2 separate regions of the Homo sapiens genome follow, and region 2 is linked to region 1. Evidence: fine-mapped expression QTL. Tissue or cell type: stomach. Region 1 holds a variant in brackets; the other region holds the start of a gene. All regions are shown on one strand. Distances are between the middles of the regions.

Region 1 (8,105 bases):
TGCTCCTACCACCCGGGAAATTCCAAGGGTTAGGAGATCTGTGTCAGGAGCCAGGGTCAGAGACCAAATATCAGAACAAAAGATACACCTTGCACACCTAACATTCAGGAAGTTACAAGAGTTTTAGGAGCTCTGTGCCGGGAACTAGGGACGCAGACCAGATGGCTATTTCTTACCTCACAATACCACTCTGGGTCATTGAGTTGAAAATAGATTTTATTCAAAAGAACTGCTTGCAGTTGCCCTTATTCACTAGTAGCAAACCTGGATTCAATTGTAGATGGTCATTAACTCTAACTTTAGTTCAGTCTTACTTATCTGTGTGAAGTCACAGATTCAAACGCTGGGTTGGTAAAGTAAAAGCAGAATGGGCGGTGGAGGCTGCAGAAGGCTGAGGGCCCCTGCTGTCGCCCGTGGATCACTGCATTTGCAGGGAAGCTGAGCCCACGTTCTGATCTCCACATCTTCAGAGAGATGAGAAGTCTTGGTTATTTGTCACCTTCTGATTTTAACATCTCAGCAGCTAACACGTTTGTTTTAAAATCTTGAGCCAGAAACGTGTATGTGGATGGGATGTGGCTCATCCTGCTGGTTTAAGACCTCTGCATTCACTGTTTTAACTTCCTGTTTGACTAGGCTATGAATAGAAATACTGAGGCAGAAGAGAAATGTGTGGAATGGGAAATAATTTGGGAATTAAGGGTATTTATGTCTGATCTGAAATTAAATAAGAAGGTAGTCTCCCATTATTTTTTAACAATTCCTGAACCCTGTCTCCTCTGTAAGCACATTGGGCCAAGAATTGAATGTCTGTTCTAAACAGCAAGGACCTCACTTGTAAGCCCAAAGCAGGGTGCAGGTCCCGGCTGAAGGCTGGCAGTCATAGACAGGAGCTGCCTGTCAGCAGGACCAGGGGTGTGGGCTGGGTAGAAGCGTTGGGAGACTCCTGGGGTCTGGCTCTCTGGTCACTTGGCCCACATCCTTCTCATAGTTTGTTCTTCTCCCATTTGGCATTTGTCTCTCGGCTTCTCCATAATGGCACTCTTAGGACCTGACACTAAAGGACACTCAGGCCGTTAGAGTAGGGGAGGAAGGAGAAGGAGGAGAGCCCACAGGGGAGGAAGGAGAAGGAGGAGAGCCCACAGGGGAGGAAGGAGAAGGAGGAGAGCCCACAGCACCTTATCTGACACGGGGATTATTGTCAGAATAGTAGCTACTGATGCTGCTTAATTACTTCTTCACTCTCATCTTTTTCTCCCACACCCCAACTCGGTCTTTTTAATGTCCCCCTCGTTGCCCTTCTCTCCCCTTTATTGTTAGTGTTAAACAGCTGCTTTTCAAAGTTCTGTCGTCCCTTTCGTCCTCCCCAAGCCTCTAGAATTAAAGGGTATTCTGCTTATTTGTAAATGTATAAGACTAGATTTATCAGTGTCTAGGCCTCTAGAAGTCTTTTCTACTGTGTACCACTTAACATTCTTACAGTCTGCATTTATCTGAAGTGATGTGGACTGACAGCCCTTTAAAAAAATTATCTATATTTTCACGCCTGTAATCCCAGCAGTTTGGGAGGCCGAGGCAGGCGGATCACAAGGTCAGGAGATCAAGGCCATCCTGGCTAACACGGTGAAACCCCATCTCTACTAAAAATAGAAAAAAAATTAGCCGGGTGTGGTGGCAGGCGCCTGTAGTCCCAGCTACTCGGGAAGCTGAGGCAGGAGAATGGCCTGAACCCAGGAGGCGGAGCTTGCAGGGAGCCAAGATTGCGCCACTGCACTCCAGCCTGGCCAACAAAGCGAGGCTCCGTCTCAAAAAAAAAATTATCTATATTTGAGGTATACAGCGTGATGTTGTAATATACATGTATATACTGAAATCATTACTACAGCCAAGCGCTTAACATATCCCTCACCTCACATGATTACCTAAGTGTGTGTGTGTGCGCGTGTATATGTGCAAGTGCGTGCCTGTGGGTGTGTGTGTGGTAAGAGCACCTAAAATCTCCCTCAGCAGGTTTCCCAAATATAATGCAATATCATTAACTGTAGTCCTCATGCTGTACATGAGATCTCTAGACTTATCCTACATGACTGCAACTTTGTACCTTTGACCTGCATCTCCCTAGTTCCCCGTCTCCCTGCCCCTGGTAACCACCTTTCTACTTTCTGCTTCTATAAGTTTTTTAGATTTTTTTAAAGACCTGTTAAAAGTTCCACATGTAAATAAGATCCATGTGGTATTTTTCTTTGTGTGTGATGTTGAGTGCATTTTCATATACCTCTTGGCCATTTTTTGGTCTTCTTTGGAAAAATGTCAATTTGGGTCCTTTGTCCATTTTTTAATTGAGCTTTTTTTATTTGCTATTGAATTGTGCGAGTTCATTATATGTTTTGAATATTAACAGGTTATCAGATACATGGCTCGCAAATATTTTCTCCCAGCCTATTGCGGGATCTGGCCAGCAGCCCGCAATGCAACGGGGTTCTCTTTGTGTTCCCAGGCGGATCGGCCCGTTGAGAAATAATAGACACACACAAGATAGCGAAAGCTGGGTCCGGGGGGGTCACTGCCTTCTGGTCCTGCAGTGCCAACAATGCACTGGATATACCAGCATTTATTATTAAGTTTAGTGAGGGCGGGGGTAGGTTAGTGAGGGATTTAGGGTCATTTGATTATGAGGTGAGATGGTCACATGGGGATGAAGTAATTCTTTAACATAACATCTGTATGCAGAAGTACAGTATACAGAGATAAGAATTTACAATATAGTGTATGCATCAGTAATTTCTGACAGAGCCTTAAAACAGAAACACAGTCTTTCCATAACCTATGATTAGCAAGATATTAATCAGCAGTAACAGTTGCAGCAAAAGCTGGTTACAAACAATCCGTAGAAACAGGACGTGAAGCTAGACAACCTGTTAGACCAGAAATTCTCAGAAGGGAGTATGCCTTAACCCTAAAGAGGCCCAGAAGAGCCCTGGCAAGATGAGGGCGTTTATAGCCCTATCTTATCCATATGGACGGTGCCCCCATGTGTCTGTTTATAGGCTCTTTACAAGGGTCACTTTCCATTCCCAGAGCTATGAATATCTGCTTTTCTGGGATAGGAATCTTGGTGATGTGAAACCTCCCTGACTGCACATCCATTCATAGGCTCTCTGCAGGGGGAAGCACATCACATGCTGTTGGCTCATTCTGGCAGTCCCACCTGGCACTGTCTTTACACAATCCTGCATGCAATTTTGTATTTACAATAATCAGGAGCATTTCATCTTTTATTCCATAGCAATAGTTTCAGGGGGTCTCCCTACACCAGCCCATAGGCTACCTTTTCATTTTGATTGTTTCCTTTGCTGTTCAGAAGCTTTTTAGTTCCATGTAGTCCCGCCTGTTATTTTTGACTTTGTTCCCTGTGCTTTTGGTGTAATACTCAAAAAAACATTTGCCAAGGCCAGCGCCAAGGAGCTTTTCCCCTGTGTTTCCTTCTAGGAGTTGTGTGGTTTCAGGTCTTCCATTTAGGTCTGTAATCTATTTTAAGTTGATTTTTGTGTGTGGTGTAAGACAAGGTCCAGTTTTATTCTTTTGCATGTAGATACCTGGTTTTCCCAGCACGACTTACTAAAGAGACTGCCCTTTCTCCACTGTGTCATCTCGGTGCCCGTGTCAAAAATTTAAAAGTAATCTGATAGCCCTCTTTAAGTTGCTTCTGATTTGTCTTTTGCACTAAAAGAATCTGTAATTCAAGGCTTAAAATTGACTACACAGCCTTTACTCTTAACATCCATATTATACTCCTATACTATACCCTTTTCTCCATCAAAAAAAAATTGATTTGCCCAGTAGGTAGTTACTGTCAGAAAATTAAGTAATTTCATTTTTATTTTGGTCTTTTTTTTTTTTTTAACTGATGATCTTCCATTTTCACCTCTAGCAACTGGTGATGATGATGACTGGGATGAAGACTGGGATGGGCCCAAATCCTCTTCCTACTTTAAGGATTCAGAGTCAGCTGATGCAGGCGGCGCTCAGCGAGGAAACAGTCGTGCTAGTTCCTCATCCATGAAAATTCCCCTTAACAAGTAAGTTTAAAGGGGAGCCAGGGAACCAGGGCCGTGGTAGAAGTATACATTAATACAAAGTATATACCCTACCAAGAGGCAGCTGGCCTTTTCCCTTTCCAGTGATCTCCTAAGTTTTGGATATGATTCAGTTATTTTTATTTGGATCTTAACTGAGAAGCTTACTTAAAAAAAAAAAAGGATTTTTGATTTACAAGGTTAATAAGTGAAATATTTATTTTATTTAATGATTTCCCAAACTGTTTTCATTACTTCTAGCTTTATCAATTTATGACATATTAAGGTTTCATTGCTAATGTCACAGGAAAGCTAAAAAGAATAATAATAACAACTCTCTTTTAAATGTTTTACTGTTTTGTTAATCACTTGCCATGTGCCAGGCATTGTGCAGAGAGGTTTGTATCATTCGCATGTAGCCCTCATATCCCTTTGTGGTACATAAAACCCCTGTTTTACTGCAGGCAAACTGATGCCCAGAGAGACGCATCGAGTGTTCCAGTCAGGAAGCCAGGCCCTCAGGCGCCAAAGCACGTGTTTCAGCTCCTGTGCCTAAAAACGTGGTCCGGAGCTTTGTGTTAGCTTAGGTTTCTCTTAGATTTAAAACAAAAAAAAAAGTGTTGTGTTTTATTTTTTTGTTTTGAGACAGGCGTCTCGCTCTGTCACCCAGGCTGAAGTGCAGTGGTGCGATCTTGGTTCACTGCAACCCCAACGTCCC[G/A]GGTTCAAGCAATTCTCGTGCCTCAGCCACCTGAGTAGCTGGGATTACAAACATGTGCCACCGCGCCCAGCTAATTTTTGTATTTTTAGTAGAGACGAGGTTTTACCACGTTGGCCAGGCTGGTCTCAAGCTCCTGGTCTCAAGTGATCCGCCCGCCTCTACCTCCCAAAGTGCTGGGATTACAGGCTTGAGCCACCACACCTAGCCAAAAAAAAAAAGTTTTTAACAGTACTTGTAGATACCCTACTTAACAGGAAAGCATGTGGGCACCAGTGACCACTGTAGGATTCTTTGGAGAGACCTAAATAAGGCTGTAGTCTATGCCAGTGTAGCTTGAAGGAGATATATTAGTAATTTATGACTTCCATCAGAATTTTCAAGTACTCCTTCCAGCAGTTATGTTTAGTTTATTTTTTGAAATTACTAATACTTTTTCCCAATATTCCAATTCCATGATTCAAGGCAGATATCAAAGAATGTTAATCTGTGTCTGGAAAAATTAAAAACATAACATTTGACATATATTTAGACATCAAGATCTAGGTCTAGATCTAGTTTAATAAGTCCTACAAGTTCTCCAAAGTATATTTAAATAGCTTCAGTGATTAAATGAGTTCTCTTTTGACTGCACACTTTTGCTGCCTCTTACCCAGTTTCTTCCATTATATATTTTCCTGCTCAATTGCATGCATAATAAAGTGAATAATTCTCTGTCTTGTTAGTCAACTGTGTCTTGTTTCAGAGTCAAATTTGAAGTTTTCAGTCATGGTCAGTAGTGATGTGCATCATTGTCAGCTGTTCTTTAAATGTGAATATAAAGTATATTGAAAATTCATATAAATTAGCCCCATTTTGAAAACGAAGGAAGCAGAGACTGAGAAAAATGAGTGGCCACGTTTTCATGGCTGATGAGTGAGGTTCCAGCTCATGCCTGGGGGTCTCTGACTCTGGTTTTTGGTGCTCTCCTCTGCTCCACACTTGCTCTCTGATTTGCTTATAACCTTAAGGCAAGTTTCGTGACCTGTTGGAACCTCAGTTTCTTCATCTCGAAAGCAAGGAGGTTGGCTTTAAGAATTCTTTCTGCTCTAAAATATCATTCCAGGCTGAAACCACATTAAAGCAGTCCTAACTTGAACCTGTGCCTCTGAGGCATCTCTGTCTCTCTGTAGTGCTGTGAACGATTTAACACCCTGTGTATTTGTATTTAACTAAACTGTATAAATGAGTCACTTAAACTTAAAACAATTATAAAAAATGTTTTTAAGTATTAACACTTTTTCAGCAATTAATCCATTTTATATGACAGCTGTATTCTAGTCATGGAACATAAATCTTATACTAGAAAAAGAGATCTGAAATTAAATATACTTGAGCACTATAAGAATTCACCTTGGGCCAGGTGCAGTGCCTCATGTCTGTAATCCTAGCACTTTGGGAGGCCGAGGCAGGCAGATCACGAGGTCAGGAATTCGAGACCAGCCTGGCCAACATGGTGAAACCTCAATCTGTACCAAAAATATAAAAAAGTAGCTGGGCGTGGTGGCACGCCTGTAATCCTAGCTACTTGGAAGGCTCAGGCAGGAGAATCGCTTGAACCCGGGAGACGGAGGTTGCAGTGAGCCGAGATGGCACCACTGCACTCCAGCTTGGGCGACACAGAGACTCTGTCTCCAAAAAAAAAATAAAAGGCATCTTGATGATGCTGAAATAATTAATACATTGCTGTCCTCAAATTTTTCTGTGGTCCATAACAGTGCCCAAAAATTGAAATGCTTACAAGCTGGTCAAGGAGTTGTCATGATATATAATCCCCACAGAAGCGCACCTGTAGTCCCAGCTACTTGGGAGACTGAGGCAGGATAATCGCTTGAACCAGGAGGTGGAGGTTACAGTGAGCCGAGATCGCGCCACTGTACTCCAGCCTGGCGACAGAGTGAGACTCTGTCTCAAAAAAATAAATAAAATAGAGTAATTAATAAATAAAAGTGTTGCAGGTTAGCCTAATTCATTAAGCATTCAGTATGCTCCCAAAACTCCTCCAGGTCCTGAAAACACAAATGCTTCCTCTAAGTCCCTCTGGCTGCTGTAATAGGTAAATGGATAGCGGCAGTCAGGTGTGATGAATAGAATCACAAAATATGCTCAAAATGCCTAGGAAGACTCTACCTGCGGCTGCAGGGAGTACTTCCAAAGAGAGGATGACTTAGTTGCCAATGACTGAAATGTACTGAGTACATACTAGGTTCTTTACATAAATCTTTAATTCCCTTATCACCTTAGAAGGTAGGTCATTCTGGTCTCATTCTTCCACAAGGAGATTTCAGCCCCTAAGGCTACCTAAGTGTTGGAGTCAGAATTCAAACCCCATGCCATCCAGCTGCAGGACACATCTGGTCTCTTGTGTAAGCTGCGTTTTAAAGGAATGTCTAGAGAAAGGAGACTCAAGGGAAGTCAGCTGAGAATGCAGGAAAAGAAGACACGGGCCCCTGAGAGCATCACACTGGCCTTTGGCTTGGCACATGAATGAAAGTAGAAGCAATGCGACTGGAACTTCGTAGAAATAAGATTCCTTTTCCCATTGTAGATATTTTGCTTCCTTTTCTTCTGTTTACTAAAAGAAAAATTCTAAAACCCAAATTAATCTTGTCTTTTTCAGTAGCCCTTTGGATGGCTATGTTCTAGCTGTCCTCTAATTTCAGAAATGTCCTTTGGATATAGATGTGATTTCTGGAAGTAGTCAAGTTTATTTAAGTTTTTGAGTCTTAAGTGACCTCCCCCCCACCCCCTCCCCATAGCCAAATTTATTGATTACACTTTGGGTCTCTACTAAAGAGACTTGTTTTCCGCTGTCATGAACTGCTTCTGAAGGCAATTCCAAAAGAAACAAGCACATATGCTGATGAGCAGGACAGCCCCTTTGGGACAGTTGTGGCCTCTGGAGAGAGCCTGTTGAAAGGCAACTTTAATTTGGATGTAGAAATGCCAGCATGTGGCTATTGCCCCCTGTGGCCAACTCAGATTGGCGTGCTCACTACTCACTGCCCCAGGGAACTAGGGGGGCGTTTTTTCAGGTCTGCCCTTCACTCTGGGGTGACCGAATGTTTCAGACACAGTCAAGCAAATAGAGTGCCCGTAAACATCACACCTTCTGGAGTCAAACTGTTCTGTTTACCAGATCAAGCTTAATTAAATGCCTAATTGGCCATTGAACAATCTGATTACATTAGGTTTCATTTACCACAGTTTCCAGTTCTAGTGCACCCGAAAGACAGGACAAGGTTAAAACTGGTAAGTAAATGTAGACGAGAGTT
Region 2 (8,105 bases), 80 kb after region 1:
CAGACTACACTCACAGCGCCATTTCTTCCTTATTTCTTTGCAAGCTGGCTTTTTTGCCCAGCCCTCTAGTGAAGCTGCCCCCTCAAAGGTCCCCGTTACCTTCTCACCAAACCAAGTTTCTTTTCTGAGTCCTGATTCTTGGATACCTTCCTGAGGTTTTTAAACCAGTCACCTCTCAGGGCTTTTGCATGTGGGAGGCTGTAGCCCCAGATGCCTGATGGCTGTTTCTCTTACCTCCTTCCGGTCTGTTAAAAAATGCCTCCTTTTCTGAGAGGGAGGAGCCCTCAGGAATGGTTTAGCGCCATCCTCTAGACGATGAGTTTTCACTCAGTTCATGTGAGATCCAGAGCTGTCCAGGTCACGCCCTTGGCCCCTCTGCTTTCTCGGGGTACTTCTTGATCGTCTTTTCCTCCTGCCCCTGCCTTCTACCCCTGTCTGTCTCCACTCCCCTTTGATCGCTGCCATACTCATTTCTGGCCCCTCATCTGTAGGCATTTCCCACTGGACGACCTGCCCACCCGGTCTCTGTCTCCAATTAAACTCGCCTCCTCCTCACTCTGGGATGGTATCGCTGCTGTCCCATTCTCAAAATGCCAGGGTCCTGTCTGACTTCCCACTTTCCTTTGTGCAGCTCATATCATACAATCAGGCACCAAATACAGATTTGTATTTCCTTTAAACCTCTCCTGTCTTACTCGGCTCGGGCTCTGATAGGGGTTAGATGTCTGTCCACTCCAAATCTCCTGTTGAAATGTAATCCCCAGTGCTGGAGGTGGGGCCTGGTGGGAGGATTGCATCATGAGGGTGGACCTCTCATGAATGGTTTAGTACCATCTTCTTGATGATAAGTGAGTTCTTGCTCAGTTAGTTCACGGGAGATCTGAGTGTTTGAAAGAGTGCGGCACCTCCCCCCAGCTCTCCTGCTCTAATCTCACCACGTGACATGCTGGTTCCTGGTTGCCTTCCACCATGACTGTAAGCCTCCTGAGGCCTCCCCAGAAGCAGACGCCAGCACCATGCTTCCTGTACAGCCTGTGGAAGCGTGAGCCAATGACATCTATTTTCTTTATAAATACCCAGTCTCAGGTATTCCTTTATAGTAACACAAATAGACTAATAATACAGGCTTCCGCAATAAAATACCACAGGCCAGTGGCTTAAACAATAGAAATTTATTTCTCAGTTCTAGAAGCTAGAAATTCTGAGATCAAGGTGCCAGCTGATGTGGCTCTTGCTGAGGGCCGTCTTCCTGGCCGGCAGATGCTCAGGCCCTTCCCTCTGTGTCTCTTCTTTTTTTTTTTTTTTGTTTTTCCTTCTTTGAGACAGAGTCGTGCTCTATTGCCCAGGCTGGAGTACAGTGGCTCCATCTCTGCTCACTGCAACCTCTGCCTCCCGGGTTCAAGTGATTCTCCTGCCTCAGTCTCCCGAGTAGCTGGGATTACAGGCACACACCACCACATCCAGTGAATTTTTTTGTATTTTTAGTAGAGATGGGGTTTTGCCATGTTGGCCAGGGTGGTCTCAAACTCCTGATCTCAAGTGATTCACCCACCTTGGCTTCCCAAAGTGCTGGGATTACAGGCATGAGCCACCGCGCCTGGCCTGTCTCTTCTTCTAAGGACACTAATCCTATCATTCTTATTGAGAGGGCCCCACTGGCATGACGTCATCTGACCCTAACGAGCTCCTAAAGGTTCCATCTCTAAAAACCATTCCACTGGGGGTCAGGGCTTCAACATATGGATTTGGTAGGGCAACAGGGGGTGGGGATAGGGTGGCTCAAACGTTCAGTGCATGTCTCCCCTACTTCCCCTCTTTGTTTCCTCTGATAACCTGTTGGGGTTCCTGACTCCCTCACCCACACCACGCTGAGCTACATTTCCTGCTGTGGCTTACTCTGGGGCTGGTGGAGTTGGCTTTTGCTTCCTTCCCCATCTCCTCCCCTTCCCAATTCCCTACCCTCCAGGCATTATACATCTCAGAGAGGGGAAGCGCCCAACTCTCCTGCCGCAGATGGGCCCACCCCTTTGCCCAAACGCCGCTGGGGGTTTAGGTGTCTGAGCCAACCTTTTCCTTGAAGGCCTCAAGGTCAGTTGCTCCATCTGCGAAAGGTGCCTGTGCCTGGGTACCCTTGGTCTATCAAGCCAGTGCGCATGTGAGGAAGCTGCTCCCTCTGCCACCCAGGTGGGCTGTCCCACCTGAAACCAGACAGCAGAGGCCCCAAAACCCAGCAGGCTCTTGGCTCACCCAGCCATTTCTCAGAGACGGAGGAACAGCCACTGTAGTTCCTTGAGTCTGAGACGTGCATTTTAACATTGTCTAAATCAGGGCAGAGATGACTATTGGTGGCATGTTCTAGTTTAATTGGAAGTTTTTTTTTTTTTCTCAGTGGTACATAAAATAGTGGTTCATTTTACAGTTGATGGTGACTTGGATTCTATAAGCTGTGAGGCTCAACTGCTGGTCCTGACTGCAGGAAAATTTCTAAAATAGGTATGGCATGCCACTGTGCAGGACTTTAGACTATATGATGCTAGTTAGGAAAGAGGAGAGAGAGATAAATGGAAGACTGGGTCCCCTCCCTAAGGCCTTACCACTCAATTTGCAAAACAGGGCTAAGAGAAAACATAAAAACACTTCTCAAGCAACATATGAGTAGGTGAGAACTGAAGTCTGTAAATCTGGGTGTTATATAAGCACTATTATCTGGGACCTCAGCATTCCAGGAAAGCTTCCTGGAAGAAGTGAGTTTCAGGTCAAAAAGTGGGCCAAAGGCTGATCTGCCTCACTGAATGGGCACACTGTTTTCATGAGGTAGTAATGTTTCCATCTACACAGAAAGAAGCTGCTCGGACAGCTGATGAGCATCATGCCTGGGATATTGAGCACATCATGCTTGACCTGGGCAGAGTTTGTGGGCAAGGAAAGGGGCTAAGGGTCAAGATAATCTCTGCTGGGGTTGTTCAAATTTATTACCCAACCATCACCTGAGAGGTTGTCCCCTGAGGATGGCTTGTCTGGTCATTACTGAATGTCTGCAGGGGCATGGCAGTGTTCTGCTTGGCTCTGGGGGCTCTGCCCTTTCTAGGACAAGTCCCAGAGACAAACAGCTTGGCCCAGTACAGCAGAATGGGGTGAGAGAGGAACTGAGTTCGTTTGCGGGCAGGATGGAAACAGCTGATGGAGGCTTCTCGGGCCATCCTCACGTACCCATCACAAGCGAAGGGAATTAAGCCGCCAAACCACCCCAAAGAGTGACTCCAACTCAGCCCTAAACACCCATACCCACCCCACCTCCCCTGCAGCTCTGACAGGCCAAGCCTGGGCGCTAGAACCCCGCGCCAGAAGGCCGGGCCACACACTCCAGCGTACACGCGCGGACACGTGCCGGTGTCCAGAGCCGGTGGGAGAGGCGCTGTCACCATCTGACAGGAGAGGAAGGTGGAGCGCAGAGAAGTCAGGGTCACGTGGTAAGTGGGGGTCGTGGTCTGGGGATCACGGCTCCAGGTCTCTTCGCGACAACGCACCGTTGACCCCCAACACCTCTCCCTGGCGGGGTCGGTGACCGCAACAGCCTCCGGGATAGAACGCTAGTGAAAGGTAACCTTTCTCCAGCCCGCTCCACGCGCTCCGCACCCGCTAAGCGCCTCCGCGAATTAACTCAGGCCTCCGCGCCGAAGTAGGCGCAGTTATGACCCCGCTTCCCCGCAGGGAGACCGAGGCACGCAGGGTCGAAAGGACTCGTCCAGGGTCGCAGGAGCCGACCACACAGGGAGGCGCAGCGCCCCCGGCGGGAACAGTCAGCGGGTCCAGCCTGGCGGACTCCCGGGCCGGGCTGCCCATATAAGGCTGCGGGCGGCCGGCATCGCAGCCAGGCTCCCGGGGTCGCCCCGCGCGGGGCATCCTCCTCCGCAGCGAGGAATGCGTGGCATCCGGGAGGCTCTTCCGCTCCACGCCCGCCTGCGGGGAGCCTCAGCCCCGGGGCGCGGCCTCGCGCAGCTGCCTGGCCGCTGGGGGGAGCGCGGGGCCGGGCGGGAGGCGGCGGCGCGCCCTCACCTGCCCCAGGCTGGGGAGGCGCGAGTGGGGAGGAGGAGGAAGGGGAGGAGGCCGGGGAGGAGCCTGGCGCGGCGGGAGCGGCGGCGCAAAGTGAAACTCTGGCAAGTTGCGGGCGCGCGGGGAGCTGTCGCGGGCAGCGCGCCCTCGGGAGGACGTGGCCCCGGCCCCCGCCCGCAGTGGGCCCGACCCTCATGGCCCTGAGCAAAGGGCTGCGGCTGCTGGGGCGCCTGGGGGCCGAGGGGGACTGTAGCGTGCTGCTGGAGGCGCGCGGCCGCGACGACTGCCTGCTGTTCGAGGCCGGCACGGTGGCCACGCTGGGTGAGTCCGGGCCGGGGGCAGCGACGCCCGGAGGAGAGGGCGCCCGCATTCGCCCAGCCTCGGGAAGACGGGTACCCCCCCTTCCCGAGGGGATCGGGCGGCGCTGGGACTGCCGGGGCGTAGGGGTCGCGCGCAGAGGGGTGGCTGTTTGAATGAAGTGGGGCTGGGGACTCGAGAGAGCACTCTGGCTGGGCCGGTGGCGCACGGAGGCCGGCCGCCCCTCCACGGGGATCTCCGGCCCGCGCCGCCAGAGGATATGGTTGCTGGATAGCCGGCTGGGGCGCTTTGCGTATTCATGAGGATCCCGGGGTGTTGACTTAGCCGGCCTGACCCTGTGCCTGGCGCCTTTTCTTTTGCACCTGTTGATGAAACCAGTGATTGCCCTTTGGTTTGTGTTGGCGGCTCCACTCCTGGAGGGGATGGGGACAAAAGCCCCAAAACATAGGCTCTGGAGAAACCGCTGATGGCAGCTTTGTCCCACGTAAATACTTGGTCGAGAAGCATCGGTGCTGCAATTTATAGAACTTGTAAACAAATATACCATGACCTTTATGCTGTCTTAGATCCTGCCAAGCCAGCGAATTTCACCTATGGACTTCAGAAGCCTTGAAACTGGCATTGTGCTATGGGCTTTAGTACGTGATCTCACTTAATTCTCACAATTCTACTAAAAAGCTATTATTATCCCCATTTTGCAGATGAGCAAACTGAGGCCTAAAGAGGCTAAGTTGCTTGCCAAGGTGACACCATCCACCTGACTTTTATGTGGCTGTTTCTGTAATGTCATTCAATGCGTGGCTTCCTGGTATCGCTAACCTGGGTCCCTTGTTTTGTGCTAACCATTATAAGGAAAACCTGGGTAGCACCAAAGCACGTGAAACCAGGTCTGATTGTTAGACTTCTAAATGTGGACACCCGAGAGTAAGCTCCCACCACTAGGCGTCCAGCTGTAACAGCTTGCCGGTATTCCTAGCTAAACAAGGTGCAGCCCGGGGTCACTCGTACTTGAGGTGGTCGGCAAATGCAGCAGGCTGCTTTGTAGATGCCTCTAGCCTTCTTTTCACATTTGTATGCATCGACTCCCGTTCGGATGTATGTCTTGGAAGGACTATCTCTCCTATTTCTGATTCCCTAATCATTTCATTAACATGCATTTATCCAGCTTGTTCTCAGTCACTTGATTACTGAAACAATGTCTCCAGTAGTCTCAGCATCAAAAGTAGGCAGTGAATTGTAGATTAAGTTATTTTCAGATTATTCTAATTTGTGCTGTCCTGAAGAGTCTAAGTTTGGTTATTTGGTGTGGCCTTGAAAGAAAACCACAGAAATTTCCATTCCATTTTAGATGTCTACTTCATACCACATTTATCGGAAGCGAAAGAGTAATTTCATGGTACAAAACTACTGTTTCATCAAATAGATTAAGATGTCCTTCAGTTGGATTACGGCAACATTAAGCCAAGTTCATACACATTCAAGAATTCTTTGAAGCAGCTTAGAAAAAAGAGATTTTATTTTTTCAAAAGTGAAGATTTAAAAATGATTAATGACAGTAATGTAGTGCATATTTTCCATTAGGAGCTGAAGTTTGGGCTGAGATTTACATCACGGTGGTGATTACAGTATACCAGATTTTAGAACAGAGAATGTAAGAAAGGAATTGGCTCGTCTTCAACTCATGTGCAGTCCACATTTGTCATTTAACCTAGCATTCATTTTTCAGTAGAAAACTTTAAAAAAAAATTTTTTTTTTTTTTGAAACAGAGGCTTCTTCTGTTGCCTAGGCTGGCATGCAGTGGCACAGTCACAGCCCACTGCAGCCTCAACTTCCCAGGCTCAAGCGATCCTCCTGCCTCAGCCTCCTGAGTAGCTGGGACTATAGGCACATGCCACCATGCCTGGCTAATTTTTTCTCTTTCTTTTCTTTTCTTTAAATGGGGTCTTACTATGTTGCCCATGCTGTTCTCGAACTCCTGGGCTCAGGTGATCTTTCCGCCTTGGTCTCCCAAAGCGTTGGGATTACAGGCATGAACTACTTACTGCGTCTGGCCTGAAAACTTAATTTTTTAAAGTCTGTTTTGTTTAAGTAAAATGAAACTATTTTTAAAAAGCAGCTGTAGCATTTGGTGGCTTTGCTGGTCCAGAGAATGTTTGTAGGAGAGAGCCTTATGTTACTAGAAAGTTGTTTAAAACTTTCAACATATCCTAAATGCATCACTATTGGATAAAATGGCTCTGAACTTGAAATTCCCATCTGTGTTCCAAAGGGCTAGCTAGCTGTTTTACTTTCCTTTCTTGGAGAAAGTGATTATTTTTTTTCTTTTTTTTGAGATGGAGCTTCACTCTTGTTGCCTGGGCTGAGTGAAGTGGTGCGATCTCGGCTGACTGCAACACCGCCACCCCCACCTGGGTTCAAGTGATTCTCCTGCCTCAGCCTCCCCAGTAGCTAGGATTACAGGCACACGCCACCATGCCTGGCTAATTTTTGTATTTTTAGTAGAGACGGGGTTGTGCCATTTTGGCCAGGCTGGTTTCTAACTCCTGACCTTAGGTGATCCACCTGCTTTGGCCTCCCAAAGTGCTAGGATTACAGGCGTGAGCCACCATGCCTGACCCGAGAAGGTGAATTTTTACAAGAAGGCTGCAATCTCTACTTTTGTATGGGACAGGACACTTGTGGCAGCTGGCGTAGCTGGTGGTCTAATCTTGACCTTTCACCCTTTCCTTGAAGTTCCGAGTCGGGGGTAGCTTCCTTTTCTCTTCAGCTGTGGTTTTCCTGTGATGGGTCCCTCCCAGTTAGTAATGAGAGGCTGAGAGACAAGTTGTGGTAACTGCTTCGTGGGTAGTGGTCTTTCCCGGCCCCTGAGTCATTCTAACTTCCATCCTGCTCCGCTGCGGATGCACATAGCTGCTTTCCTAGGGGCGAGAGGAGATGAGGGGACTGGGCCTGATGACCACAGGCGCTGCCCCTTCATAGCACATTTTATTCCTGAAGGATCCTAACTGGAAAAGTACCTCTCGCCGAAGGGGCTGGGTGGTTCCTTATCATTTTCAGGCAAGGCCTGGAGACAGGGGCTTGAACTGGGCTGTGATTTTTAGGAAAAACGGATGGTCCATGATTCGTTGATTGCTGGACTCCTTCCATCTGAACCTGTCTTCACCTGTCTTCACCTGTCCTGCTCTAAAGTGAACTCTTCACACTAGGGCCGTCTGGCCTGCTAGCAGGATTGTTGAAGGAATTATTCCAAATTCCTGCTTCTAAAAGAATTAGGTTGTGAATCTGAATCTGTCTTTTATGTAGATCAGTGGGAGCAAAAATTCCAGAGGCAGAAAAGCCAAATGTATTGGCACTGATTTAAAAGGCTTTTATGAAGTCTCGGGAACCTGACTGGAGGGTAGTTGGCCTTCTCAGCACAGGTGGGAAGCCCCGTAGCCGGTACCAGCATCCCTGGCCAACAATCCACAATTAGCAAACAGATGTTCCCTTATTTGCACATGGGACAAAAACCTACTCCTGTCTCTGTCTCTTGTAAACTTAGGGAAAAGTGCTTATTGTTAATGGATTTTGTGTATTTTCAGAGTAAGCGACAGTGTTCCAAAGTTCAAGGTTCTCCAACAGCCCCCAGGAACGGTGGCCTGAGGGTGTCCCTGTGTTTACAGTGCGGGCTGTGTGTGAGTGAAGTCGTGCCTCCTGCCGCCCAGCCGGGCTTTGCTGTGAACAGGCAGCAGGG

The links. PIP is the estimated chance that this variant, and not a neighbour inherited with it, causes the effect.
Region 2: SYNJ2 starts here. The variant in region 1 is fine-mapped to the expression of SYNJ2 in stomach (GTEx, PIP 0.92).

Annotation. Positions count from the first base shown.
Region 1 is chr6:157,897,967-157,906,071 of GRCh38, forward strand. SNX9 (sorting nexin 9) reads left to right here. Exons shown (of 18, transcript NM_016224.5): 6 at 3,932-4,079. Among named protein-coding and RNA genes, the nearest start is that of SNX9-AS1, 9.1 kb to the left of the region's middle. The variant G/A (reference allele first, on the strand shown) is at 4,795.
Region 2 is chr6:157,977,715-157,985,819 of GRCh38, forward strand. SYNJ2 (synaptojanin 2) reads left to right here and starts at 4,149. Exons shown (of 27, transcript NM_003898.4): 1 at 4,149-4,374. The coding sequence starts at 4,248. RefSeq lists enhancers at 3,385-3,434, 3,399-3,914, 3,455-3,644, 3,665-3,714, 3,915-4,430 and a silencer at 3,835-4,414.